4 linked regions of the Homo sapiens genome follow. The protein of the gene in region 2 purifies or fractionates together with the protein of the main gene of each other region. This does not show direct contact. Each region holds a gene or a part of one and is shown on either strand. Other genes may lie near its edges.

The links. Proteins that work in one complex are often made in the same cells at the same time.
Region 1: the proteins of SNX9 (region 2) and FCHSD2 purify together in Homo sapiens (co-immunoprecipitation; one large-scale study listed by IntAct). This does not show direct contact.
Region 3: the proteins of SNX9 (region 2) and FCHSD1 purify together in Homo sapiens (co-immunoprecipitation; 3 studies listed by BioGRID and IntAct, with this or other methods). This does not show direct contact.
Region 4: the proteins of SNX9 (region 2) and BIN3 purify together in Homo sapiens (co-immunoprecipitation; one large-scale study listed by IntAct). This does not show direct contact.

Annotation. Positions count from the first base shown.
Region 1 is NC_000011.10:72,978,314-72,981,818, forward strand, and holds part of FCHSD2 (F-BAR and double SH3 domains protein 2), read right to left. Parts: intron 1-3,505. UniProt on the Homo sapiens protein: Adapter protein that plays a role in endocytosis via clathrin-coated pits. Contributes to the internalization of cell surface receptors, such as integrin ITGB1 and transferrin receptor.
Region 2 is NC_000006.12:157,826,245-157,829,749, reverse strand, and holds part of SNX9 (sorting nexin-9), read right to left. Parts: intron 1-3,505. UniProt on the Homo sapiens protein: Involved in endocytosis and intracellular vesicle trafficking, both during interphase and at the end of mitosis. Required for efficient progress through mitosis and cytokinesis. Required for normal formation of the cleavage furrow at the end of mitosis.
Region 3 is NC_000005.10:141,641,414-141,644,918, forward strand, and holds part of FCHSD1 (F-BAR and double SH3 domains protein 1), read right to left. Parts: coding exon 3,446-3,505; intron 3,278-3,445; coding exon 3,160-3,277; intron 3,026-3,159; coding exon 2,805-3,025; intron 1,676-2,804; coding exon 1,588-1,675; intron 345-1,587; coding exon 289-344; intron 151-288; coding exon 85-150; 3' UTR 1-84.
Region 4 is NC_000008.11:22,624,117-22,627,621, forward strand, and holds part of BIN3 (bridging integrator 3), read right to left. Parts: intron 1,297-3,505; coding exon of another isoform or gene 1,185-1,296; exon of another isoform or gene 254-1,184; intron 248-253; coding exon 106-247; intron 1-105. UniProt on the Homo sapiens protein: Involved in cytokinesis and septation where it has a role in the localization of F-actin.

The sequences.
Region 1 (3,505 bases), on a different chromosome or scaffold from region 2:
AAAGAAAAATAAATAAATACATAAAAATAAAAAATAAAAATGAGCAAAAAATCTGAATAGACATTTCTCAAAAAAAGTCATATAAATGGCAAGCAGGCATATAAAAAGGTGCTCAATATCATTGACCATCAGAGAAACATAAATCAAAACTATAATTAGATAGCATGTCATCCCAGGTCAAATGACTTTTATCCAAAAGACAGGTGATATGTTTGGCTCTGTGTCCCCACTCAAATCTCATCATCTCAAATTGTAATCCCCATATATCGGGGGAGGGTCCCTGTGGGAGGTGACTGGATTATAGGAGCGATTTCCCTGATGCTGTTCTCATGATTGTGACTGAGTTCTCACGATATCTGATGGTTTAAAAGTGGCACTTCCCCCTTCGCTTCCTCTCTCCTACCCCCATGTCAAGAAGGTACTTGATTCTCCTTTGCCTTCTACCATGATTGTAAGTTTCCTGAGGCCTCCCCAGCCATGCGGAACTGAGTCAATTAACCCTTTCTTCTTCATAAATTACCCAGTCTCAGGTAGCTCTTTCTTTTTTTTTTTTTTTTTTTTGAGATGAAGTCTCACTCTGTCACCCAGGCTGGAGTGCAGTGGTGCGATCTCAGCTCACTGCAACCTCCACCTCTCAGGTTCAAGCGATTCTCGTGCCTCAGCCTCCCTGAGTAGCTGGGACTACAAGTGCATGCCTCCACACACAGCTAATTTTTTGTATTTTTAGTAGAGATGGATTTTCACCATGTTGGCAGGCTGGTCTCAAACTCCTGACCTCAGGTGATCTGCCCACCTCGGCCTCCCAAGGTGCTGGGATTATGGGTGTAAGTCACCATGCCCGGCCACAGGTAGTTCTTTAAAGCAGTGTGAAAACGAACTAATACAACAGGCAATAAAAAATGCTGGTAAGGATGTGGAGAAAACAGAACTCTCATACATTAAAACTACTATGAAAAAATTAAAAGTCCAATAAAAGAAACTGTAAAGTTGAAGAAGTCTCCCAAAAAGTACAACATAATGACAAAGATGGAAAATAAGAAAGAAATGAAATTTAAAGAAGCAAGCTAGGAGATATCATATCTTAATAATGGGAAGTTCCAGAAAGAGAAAACAAAAGGGAAGAATTAATCCAAGAAATCAAAGGGTACACTGAGAATATTCCATAAACTTCTAAAAAAAGAAAAAACAAACAATTAGATCAGATACAAATAATCAAGAACTAGGATGGCTTTGGATTCTCAATACTTACACAGTAAAGAAGAAAACAATGAGGTATGGACTCCAATGTTTCAATGAAAGAGTTTTCAACCTTTAATTCTATATCCAAGTACAAGCAAATAATATGCCATTTTCATAAACATAGTATCTCAAAAAACTTACTTCCCATGCCCACTTTCGCAAGAAGGTACTGGAGGATGTGCTCTACCAAAGGACAGTATAAATCAAGAAAAAAATAAGACATATCATAAAGAAAACTGGAGATCTAACACAACAAAGACATATAGGAAGATCTCAGGATAAATACTTGCATCTGACACAGAGGGCAACTAGTCCAGATTAGAAGAATGTAACTCAAAAGACAGTCATAATGAGGGTTGTTATCACCAAGATAACTGCTAATGTAAGAACAGAATGTCCAGGAAATACGAAAAGAACATAAAATAATTGTTTTGTTCCCTAAGAAGGCAGGAGGGGATGAGATATAATCCAAAGCTGAGGTGAAAAGATCACCTTTAGACAGGAACAACTGCTACTGAGACTCTGGAAGAGTCTTCAACACAGATGAAGTGGACAATATTGAAGCTGTCTTCCAACGGTTTCTATCGTCTCTGTAAATTAGGAAGAAAACCCACTTGCTAAGCATAAAAGAGAAGGGGTAAGTTTGAGGTTTGAAGAGGGGGGAAAAGTTGAAATAACTGTTAAAAATAGTAGGAAAAGTTAACTAGGGAAAAGACAGTAGGCCATCTAAGCAGTGTTGAAACTGCTGCACTGGTTTCTCTATTAATTTATGATCATGAATCTGCTCCGTCGAAACTTTTCTTCAGCAGTACTTGGCTGCTTAGATACAGATTATCCAGTTATGGGGGCTCATCAGAGTTACAATTTCATTTCATTTGAAGAAGGGCAAAGATAAGAATATAAGTTAGAGTATTATTTAAATAATGAGCTATGAACTTTAACGAGGATAACAAAGAAAATGAGAAAGGATAACATGTATTAAATGGTTAGGATAATGCCAAGGCAATATTAAGCAATAAAAAAGATAGCTATTATTATTACTAACCACAGTCCTCCAGCAGTAAGTGATTTCCATCACTCTAATTTGCAATCATGTATATATGTATGTGTATGTGTGTGTGTGTATATATATATATATATATATAATGTATGTATGTATATATATGTATGTGTATATATATGTATATATGTGTGTGTATATATATGTGTATGTATATATATACATCTCACTCTCTTCTACCATATTGAGCTCTTTGAGGATAAGTAGTATGTCTTACTCATCTGTCTCTTCCCAAAGCCTAACTCAGTAGTTAGCATGCTGTAAGAGGCTCTTAAATGTGTATGATTAAACCAACAAATCAAATACCCTGCTTTTAAGCTACCCATATAGGGCATTATCACCTTAACATTAATTCAGAAAAATAGATATTTCCTTAACATTAATTCAGAAAAACAGATATTTTCAAGAAAGGCATCTAAGGGCCACTGACAATTCAATGGTGGAAATTTACTAAGTAGCTAACAGCATGATTGATAGGAGTTTTCCTGTACTGCAGACTATAGAATTAGCATGAGGAAGAAAATGAGTTAATGTACAGTACATGAAAACTGAAAGTATGTTTTCTCATTTTTAAGGGGCAGGAGGGACCAACCCCTGCCTCTATTTTTAATCAGTTTAGTACCCCACAATGTTTCATTAAATGAATACTCCAAAGCATGACCTACCCAATGCTGATCAAATATATGCATAAAGACTTCAAAGTAAGTTCGAGAACATATATTAATCTGTGAGCTGGCCAGGCCCTTTAACTTCCTCTTTGCTTTAGGCAGAGAGCAGATCCCCCAAATAAGAATGTACTTTCTCTGGTTTATTGAAGGCCATCTTTTTTAGCTGTAGATCCAATAGAAAAAAAATAGGATTTTATTTTTGCTGTTGCTTAAGTTAATATAATGTTCATTTAAAAATATTCATAGGGAAAAATATACAGCTTTGATATAATAGTAGACATATATAGAATATAGTGAATTACAACCTTAAGTGCGAGCTGTGCTAAAAATCATCTTTAGTAAATGTGTTCTTTGAAACTGTTGGTCCTTGTAAGTCTGAAGCACTATGTAATACCTAATACGATACTAAAACCAGCCAGGCCCAGTAGCTCACCCCTATAATCCCAGCATTTTGGGAGGCTGAGGTGGGAGGATCTCTTAAGCCCAGGAGTTAAAGAATAGCCTGGGCAACAAAGTGAGACCACGCCTCTGCGAAAAT
Region 2 (3,505 bases):
ACATTAACATTAGAAATATAGTCTTTAAGAAAAAATGCATTACCAGAGGTAAAGAGGTTCACTTCATAATGATAAAAACTTCAATTCACCTAGAAAATAATACTAATTGTAAATGTAGAGAAAATTTTTAAATTCACCATTTTAGCATCACCATCAAGTAGACAGAGGATCAGTTAGATACAACAGATCAAATAGAGGAACACAATTAGTAAGGATATACATATAAACAGCACAGTAAGTCTAGTGGACATAGAGCATACAGAATAGACACACACATCAATAATATGTATACTCTTTTTGTGCACAGGTGAAACATAAAAGCTGACTGTATGCTGGGAATAAAGTTAGCCTCAACAAATTTCCAGGTACAGTATTGATTTTAATTAGGCTCCCTGATCACAATGCAATCAAGTTAGAAATCACCAACAAGAAAGAGAAAAACCCAATACATTTGGAAATTAAAGACAATTCTGACAACTTGTAGGTTAAAGACAACTCTTTAAAGTCTCAGAAATATGAAGCTTGTTCCAACTACCTTAAAACATCAGGCAATTTCTCATGTAATCATTAGTAAAATTGATTATGTTTTAAAAAATATAATTGCCAATACCTAAGCTGCAGATGTAAATTTTGTGTTGTACCTGTATACACTTTTAACAAATACACTAAAACACATGATTAAAAGAACAAAAGCTTACAGCTGGGGATTAATAGTTTTCTACTTCAATAATCGAGTCACTTATCTCACTAGAATATATTTTTGCTCTTTTAAACTTGTCATTGAAGATACAAAAGTGATCACAAACAGTCTCAGCTTCTTGAGGCTGACAGCATTCAAAGGAGCCAGCCATCAGTTATAGAAACAAATATAAAATGGCAGTCGGGGTGTGTAATGTGACCCTGAAACAGGGGCGGGGACATCAGGAAAGGCTTTCCCGGGGAAGTGATGCTTAGACGCATTAAGACCTAATATGTGGCCAGGCGTAGTGTCTCAAACCTGTAATCCCAATACTTTGCGGGGCTGAGGAGGAAGGATCACCTCAGTTCAGGACACATGGTGAAACCCCATCTCTACAAAAAATACAAAAAGTAGCTGGGCATGGTGGTGCACACCTGTAGTCCCAGCTACTTGGGAGACTGAGGTGGAAGGATCACCTGAGCCAGGGAAGTCGAGACTGCCGTGAGCTGTGTTCGTGCCACTGCACTCCAGCCTGGATGACAAAGTGAGACCCTGTCTCCAAAAAAAAAATAATAATAATCATAATCATAAAAACTTAACATCTAAAAACAAAGTACCTAGGGAAGGACAAGGGAGAACAGCATTCCAGAAAAGAAACAGCAGTACTGCAAAGCTACAAAGTTTTAAGTGGACAATTAAAGTAAAACTATAATTTAATTTTCAGATGGTCAATATAAAAACAAGGCACAGTAGAAAAACTGCAACATTTTTATGCTTTCTAATCTATTCCTTCTTTAATGAGACTTGTTCATCTTTCTACTGTCACAGAACTTATCTTTGACTATACAAATACTGCACACTCTACTTAAGACACATAGAAAATACTACTGTTATACAAAGTTAAATGGTTAGCATTTTCCAAACATTTTAAAAGCCATAAAAATCAACTTTAATCCTTAAGACCTGTTAGAAAGATATTTCTATTCTAGTCGTCAAATAAAGAAGTTTCTGCTCTGGAGGGGCTACAAAGTATGCCTTCTGAATTGTTCTCACTAATCTATGCATGGAATAAACAAGTCTTAAGTAATTCATTTATTCCCTACCATTATTTTTAACATTCCATACCCACTTAATTTAACCAGACAAGCTGTGTAACACATGTGTATAACTTTAGGTATTGGAACCGAAGAGTTAAAAAAAAAAAAAAAGCATCAGGAACTCCTAGAATCTTGTTATAGTTAGCCTAAAGGTGACTATGTAAGCACAAAAGGATCCAAATTAGTGACTGAAGGTTAACTTTGACGTAGAAATTACAGCTAAATTATATAGATATGGATTAACCTCCACTAACAATTTTCTTCATGTCCCCTTTGACAGACACTGAAAAAAAATTCTTCATTTCTTTTCCAGAACTTGATCTTTTAAATAAAACAGGATGACTGACAATGTATTATATATTTATATATCTCATATATATATAAACTATAATATAATATATATTTATATATTATATAAACTATAATATAATATATGTTTATATATTATATAAACTATATGTTTATATATTATATAAACTATAAGTTTATATATTATATAAACTATAAGTTTATATATTATATAAACTATAATATATGTTTATATATTATATAAACTATAATATATGTTTATATATTATATAAACTATAATATATGTTTATATATTATATAAACTATAATATATGTTTATATATTATATAAACTATAATATATGTTTATATATTATATAAACTATAATATATGTTTATATATTATATAAACTATAATATATGTTTATATATTATATAAACTATAATATATGTTTATATATTATATAAACTATAATATATGTTTATATATTATATAAACTATAATATATGTTTATATATTATATAAACTATAATATATATGTATATATTATATAAACTATAATATATATGTATATATTATATAAACTATAATATATGTTTATATATTATATAAACTATAATATATGTTTATATATTATATAAACTATAATATATATGTATATATTATATAAACTATAATATATATGTATATATTATATAAACTATAATATATATGTATATATTATATAAACTATAATATATTTTATATATTATATAAACTATAATATATTTTATATATTATATAAACTATAATATATATTTATATATTATATAAACTATAATATATATTTATATATAAAATATAATATATATATAAAATATAATATATATTTATATATAAAATATAATATATATATATAATATAATATATTTATATATCATATATATATAAAACCTATAATATAAATAGGTTATATTTTGGCTGGGTCGAAATATAACCTTTGGAGGCTTCCAATAAAGGTCAAGACTAAAATGCTCTGCAGCTTTTGTATTAATATTTGTAAAACAAGACTTGATTGCACTGAGTGAGTGTATACACTTAAACTGAATGCAGCACTCTACTGAGTAAGGAGTAGAAATAGAAAATAGATAATCCCCTTAAAATGTGCAGTTACTGATTAACTTTCCTTTTTTTTTTTTTTTTCTTGAGATGGAGTCTCACTCTGTCACCCAGGCTGGAGTGCAGTGGCGCAAAATCGGCTCACTGCAAGTTCTGCCTCCCGGGTTCACGCTATTCTCCTGCCTCAGCCTCCCGAGTAGCTGGGACTACAGGCGCCCGCCACCACGCCCAGCTAATTTTTTTTGTATTTTTAGTATAGATGGAGTTTCACCGTGTTAGCCAGGATGGTCTCGATCTCCCGACCTCGTGATCCGCCCGCCTCGGCCTCCCAAAGTGCTAGGA
Region 3 (3,505 bases), on a different chromosome or scaffold from region 2:
GTTGCTCTGGATCATTGATGGTGTGGTCTGACAGCTTGAAGATAGGGACAGCAGCATCACTGGGGGTCAAGGCTTCCCTGGCCTTCAGGTGAGGGGATCTGGGTGGCCAGGATCCGGGGCTTTAGCCGGCGGGGGAGGTGGTGGACGCATCTGTAGGGAACACACAGTTAGTGCTCCAGAGTTCTCCCTTAAGGGTATCCCTGTCTATTCCCTCAGCCCTGCAGACAAAACAGGACTGGTTGGAATAACCCCTCTACATACAATCTCCTCCAAGGCAAGGGCCCTTACCGGCCTGAGTCGAGGTGCCATCATGTCCAGGAACCCAGGGAAGTCCAGGGCTTTGTCTGGAAATAAGAACCACAAGTCAGTCTTCAGACTTTGTTTTGTTCAATGCTGTATCTCCAGCACTTAGGACAGTGGCATTCTATAAATATTTGTTAAATTAATGGTCACCATCCTAGACCATAAAATCCATCACTCTATCCACTGTCCTCAACATTTATTGGGCAACTGCTGTATAATCAGCTCTGCTCAAGGTACAAAACTAAGGGAGATAGGATGCATAGTGCTCCCACCCCCAATGGCTGTCAAGAAACCAATAATGAAACCTCAACAAACACAATAAATGACTAAGTGCTAAGTCATGCAAAGTGAACTTGGGGTGGTGGAGATGGTGGTAACTCCAGGGAGGGAGACTCCTTGTGGACAAGGTGGAAGTACCAGAAAGTTTTAGAAAAGGCAGGCATTCCACAGCCATAAAAAAGAATGAAATCATGTCCTCTGCAGCAACATGAATGGAGTTGGATGCCATTATCCTAAGTGAACTAACTCAGAAACAGAAAACCAAATATTGCATGTTCTCACTTATAAGTGGGAGCTAAACAACGGGTACACATGGACATAGAGATGGAAATAACAGACTCCCAGGACTCCAAAGGGGGCAAAGGTAGGAGTAGAGGCAGGGGCGAGGGTTGAAAAATTACCTATCAGGTACAATGTTCACTATTTGAGTTACAGGTACACTAGAAGCCCAATCTCCACCAGTATGCAATATATCCATATGACAAACAAGCACATGTACCTCCTGAATCTAAAATAAATAATAAAATAAAACTGCTATAGACATTTAAAAAAGAAAAAAAGTGGGCATCAGAAAAAATAATGATACAAAGCTAGGTATCTGGACACTAGGAGCAAAAGGTGCATATTGGGAGGACACCGTGAGAGAAGTTAGCTAATTTTTAAAATAATAACAGTGACTGCATACTTACTGTGTGCCAGGCACAATGCTGTGTAGTCCACAGGCATCTTTTTTAACTCTCATAAGAATTCAATAAGCTAGTACCTTTTCCTTACCTCATAAAGAACATAAACTGAGGCCAAGACAGGTTCAGAATCCCACCACACACTTGGAGATGACAGAGCGGGACCTGAACCAGTCAGCCTGGCTCCAGAGCCCAGGCAAGTGCTCTCCACCAAGCAAGATGCCTGAAGGCACGGAGAGGACCAGAGCGTGACCTGGGAGTCCAAGCTTCCTCCTTCTTCCTGTCTGTTAGCCTCCCAAGGCTCCCAGTTCCTTCCACTCACCCCCAGGCAGGACAGGTGCAGGGGGCCCATCCAACACAGAGGTAGGTGCAGGTGGGGAGAAGCTGGGAGGAGAAGGGGACGGCAGCATCTGGAGGTGGGGTGGGCACAGAGTTATTCCTGGCATGTGGGGAGGTTTTACCAGCTTTTCCTCTCATCCCATCTCCAGTTCCTTCCTCATCACTTCTCAATACAGGAAGTGGCCAAATGCTTGCATTCGGTGGGGGGGTGTAGCTGACAAATATTTCAACAGCCAATATGTATTGAACGCTTATGTTTACTATGTCTCAAGTGTTCTGCTAGCACTTCACGTGTACCAATTCATTCAATCCTCACCACTACCCCATGAGGTAGGCATTTTTAATAATATGACTCCTATGTTAGAAGTGAGACCCAGGTTAAGCCAGCTGTCCAAAATCACGAAGCCAGTTATTGGCAGAGTGCTGGCTAGAACCCAGTTCTCCTGATGCCCACTCCTATTCTCTTTCTGCTGTATGTATATACATTATAACAACAGATATCTTATATTGAAACACCTTCTGCATTCCACTGCACTAAAGGCTTTGCCTCGGCGGGGCGCAGTGGCTCATGCCTATAATCCCAGCACATTGGGAGGCCAAGGCAGGTGGATCACCTGAGGTCAGGAGTTTGAGACCAGCCTGACCAAATGGAGAAACCCTGTATCTACTAAAAATAGAAAATTAGCCGGGCGTGGCAGCACGTGCCTGTAATCCCAGCTACTCGAGGGGCTGATACAGGAGAATCGTTTGAACCCGGGAGGCAGAGGTTGCGGTGAGCTGAGATCGCACCATTGCACTCCAGCCTGGGCAACAAGAGCGAAACTCTGTCTCAAAAAAAAAAAAAAGAAGAAGGCTTTACCTCGATTATCTCTAATTATGACAGTGAGCCTGCTAAAGTAGGTATTATCCCCATTTTACATGTGAAGAAACAAGCTCAGAGAGGTTAAATCATTGCCCAAGTCATACAATAGAAATTTGAACTCAGATCTATCCAGCACTAAAGTAGGACCCCCCAAACTCCTATGAAGGCTGCCTTGGTTTCCCTTTTCCCTGCCCCCCCATAGGAGATGGGAGGCCCAGGCCACTGTAGGAGGTAAAACTGGGGAGCAGAGGAGGCATTAAGATGAATATGAGGCTTTATTGGGGTGGGAGGGTCAACCCAGAGGTGCCTGGGGAGTTCAGGGAGAAGGTAAGCCTCACCTGTTCAGGGTCAGAGAGTTCAGGTGGCCCTGGGGGGCCAAGCAGCTCTTCCACCAGCAGGGAGGGGAAGACCCCAACACGGCCCCCAAATTCTCCCCTCCAGAAGCCGTCATCTACTCCATCTTGGGCCCGGGGCAGCAGACGGATGAGTGCCCCCTCAGGGAAGCTCAGCTCCTCTGCACTCTGTCCGGTGTAGCTGTACAGGGCCTGTGCCAGGAATGCTACAGAGGCCCAGGAGAGACGGTGAGAGGGAGGTGGGTAGCAGTGCCCCAGGACCATGACACCCCAGGGCTACAACCCCTAACAATTTTTCTCCATACCCAGGGTCCTCTAACCCAAAATTTCCCTTTCTTACCTGTGGGCTCTGCCCCGCAGGGATTGTCACTGTCTTGGCTGCTCTCTGGGAGGGAGAGGTCCGGGAAGTTGAGATATCGCTCAGGGACAAAGCCTACCTCGCCGTGCTGGTTCCGAGCCTGCTCACCCAGCAATGTGAACAGATATTAGACTTACCTCAGCAGTCCATGACCCTGGCTCTCTTCTACTCAGGCTTCTAGCTTTGCCTAGAAGGGTCTATGGAGGCCACAGAGAAGTCCCTCCTACTGCCCCCAACCCAAGGTCAGAGCCCGGGGTCCCATACCCACCTTGACCCATTCGTCAGCATCTCCCTCCTCTATGACCTCCAGCCACTCACCCTCCGTGAT
Region 4 (3,505 bases), on a different chromosome or scaffold from region 2:
GGGGACGTCTGGTGTCTTGGTGCCCCCAGGTGAGGGGAGGGACTTACCACAGGTGACCACGATGGCCCACCTGTCTAGCCCCTGCCCACCTGTCTCCCCTGGTACCTGGTGGAGCTTGGCCAGCACTGGCCCCGTCTTCTCCTTTTCCTCATACTTCTCCACCTTGGCCTGCAGCCTCCTGTAGTCCTGCAAGGCCTGTTCCCGCCTCTTCACAGCCATGTTGAGGCTCGGGAAGACACTGCCGAACCTGTGGGACAAGCTGGCTGGAGATGGGCCCGTTCTTGAAGGGGTGGCCTGGCTGGAGATGGGTCTGCTCTTGGAGGGGTGGCCTGGCTGGAGATGGGTCCGCTCTTGGAGGGGCGTCCTGGCCAGCACTCACTTGTCCAAAAATGTGCCCTGAGCACCTACCAAGCGCCAGACCCTGCTCTAGGTCTTGGGGAGTTCACTGTGAACAAGACAGATGAGGCCCTGTCCCCTGGAGCTTGTGCGAACGTGGACAATGTCATGGGGTGAGGGCAGATGAGAGGAGGTGGGGTTGTGGGCCAGGTCCAGGGAGCTGGGTGGCACAGGGTGGCCCAGGAATGAAGGGTGCCCTGACCCCCACCTCCTGTGAGCTTTATCACACAACGGACTAGGGGATGGTGGGGAAGGTGCCTTGAAGTCATCTGGCCAACACCTCACTTTTAAAAAGGAGGGAAACTGAGGACAGAGAGAGATGACCTATGACTCATCCAAAGTCACGATGAGGCAGAGAAGGTCTAGAAGAGAACACAGGTGTCCACATTCTCTGTCTGGCACCCTTTCCAGCCCTCACAGTGCCACTGGCAGGTGGCAGAACTGAAATCTAAACTCACCCCTGCCCCAGGGCACCTTCTCCTTCAAGGGCTCCTTGGCAACATGAAAGCAGCAGAAATCCTCTGGCTCTGCCATTGGAACCGCCAAAGTTCCAACCAGCTGCTTCAGGAAAATGCCCTGAGGACCTCCACTGTGACTAGAAGGGACCGCGTGGGAGACTCAGAGGAGTGGCCCTCAGAGAGAGCAGCAGTGGACGATGCAACGCTGCAGGTCCACACCGGCCTCGTCTTTGTGGATCATGTGTCCTCTAGTGACCAGGAGCAGTGCTCTCCTGAGGCTCTCGCTGCTGCTGCTGGAGGGCTGGCCCTCGGTGCAATGGCAGGGGGCGTCTACCAGGCAAGCCAGAGCCCTGCAGTGTCCAGGATCAGGCTGCGCAGCCCAGGGAGCTCATGACTCTGTGGCCATTCGGAGGTGACCCAGGACCAGAAGAGTTGGTTCCTCCTGGACATTTTTATGAGGAACCCAGAGAGGAGGAAAGACGAGGGCAGGAAGCAGTTACTGAGACTGGGATCATAGGCACTCAGAGTTGAGAGGATGCTGGCAGACTCACTGTCAGGTTCCAGGAGCTCAGCTACCACACAGAGCAGGACTCCCAGATGTGCCTCTCAAAGGACATGACCAGGAATTTGGTTTTGAGACAGAGTCTTGCTCTCTCACCCAGGCTGGAGTACAGTGGTATGATCTCTGCTCACTGCAGCCTCCACCTCCTGGGTTCCAGCAATTCTCATGCCTCAGCCTCCCGAAGAGCTAGGATTACAGACGTGTGCCACTACGCCCAGCTAATTTTCGTATTTTTAGTGGAGACGGGGTTTCACCATGTTGGCCAGGCTGGTCTTGAACTCCTGACCTTGAGTAATCCACCCGCCTCAGCCTCCCAAAGTGCTGGGATTACAGGCGTAAGCCACCGTGGCCGGCCTGTTTTTAAAAAGCCTCAGCAAATCAAGTGTACATTTGAGGTAAGAGTAATGAACAGTTTTGCCAGGGAGTAAGAGGATATTAACTTTACCAAAGCATTAAATGCCCCCAAACTAAGTCAGACCCAGGGAGTAGATTTTGATGAAACAAAGGGCTTATCCCCAAGACAGGAATCCTCTACCTCAACAGTGTCCATAAGGGGCTCCCTGTCTTAACAAGGTGCTAAGTGGGTGAAGCCACCAAAGCACCCTGAATGCTCACCCGTGCCCTTAGACATAGTAATCAAACCAGCATCTGACCGACTTGCCGGGCAGAAGCCATGGGCCTCCCAGGACTGTGCACAGAGAACGCGGGCCCCTCAGCACTACGGAACTGAGGGTGGGAAGCAGACACCACCAGGATGCATAGTCGCCCATGGCGTGGGCTGGGGTGAGACTGCTGGGAGGAGCTAGACTTGATGCTTTGCCCAGGGCGGCTGCGTGGTGGAGCTGCAGCTGCTGGGGAGCCCTGCCCCCTTCCTGGGCAGCTGAGAGGCACGTGTTCAGGCAGCAGGTGCAGCTGGGCCTGAGAGGCTACCAGGCCACCTCTCCCTCAGCCCCAAATGGCCAAGGGACCACCGGCAGCTACCCTGGTCCTCGCCCTGATCCTTGTGTTAGAAGCCACCTGCTGCTTGGATGGTCCCAGTGCCTGGGCCTTGTGGGTGCCTGGGAGCTGCCGGGTAGGTGCAGGCGCTGGGACAGGGCAAGGATGAGGCAGGCAGGAGGCAGCAGGTGGAGAGCTCTCTGGCCCTGGCCCCAATCCCACCACCCTGAGCTCACATCCTCAGGAAGGAGGGCATCACAGCGTGAAGCCGTGTGTGCGCAAGGTGGCTTCCACGGTGCAGGATGGGAGGAGCCCTATGCTCGTTGCTCCAGCAGCCTGACCCCCCAACATCCCCTGAGGCACTCTCATAGCCCCCTTCCCACAGCTGTCGGCTGGGGCTTATTATTTCCTGTGCCAGAGTCAGAGCCACCAGGAGCGCTGACTACAGCGGAGTGCCGAGCGGGGGTGAGGGAGGCCGGGTTACAGAGCTCCTCGGGGGATGGCGTGGTGGTGTCTCCAGGTGGCCACCTGGCTGCATGGGCTCCTGCCAGCCCCCTGGAACCAAGACCACCTGCCTCTGCAGGCCGCCTGCCCCAGTGGGAAGAGCATGTCTTCACCATGAAAACCTCCGTTTCCCATGACAGCACCCCTTAGCCACCAAGAGGCTCTGCCTGCTCAGGCCACTGGAGGTGATTGCTGATAAATTACAACCACGGTGGGGGGAGGTTGGGTCCTGGGATTGGGATTCCCTAGGGGTAGGGACAAGTGTCACACCTTTCTACATTCAGTGGGAACTCACATCAGTCAGGGCAGGGCGCAGCTTGTGCCAAGGTGGCTGAAGAGTAGTGGACCAGGACTCTGTCACATCTGCCCTGGTCACTCACTGACCCTTTGAGGCCCCATCTCCCCGTTTTCTACTTCTTAGCAACAGAACAGACTTTGCCAAAGCCCCGGGGTGGACAGTGGATGTGCCACGGTGCTGTGTGGGATCTCAGGTCAGGGCTCAGGCTGCTGGCAGGGGAGGTGGAGACGTGCACAGGCTGGGCGCCTGTGCCAGCCCCTCCCAGATATGTCCCTGGGACCCCACAGAGGCCCTGCTGACTCTACCCAACCACACTGGGGGAGCCTGTCCCCAGGCGTGAAGCCAGGACCC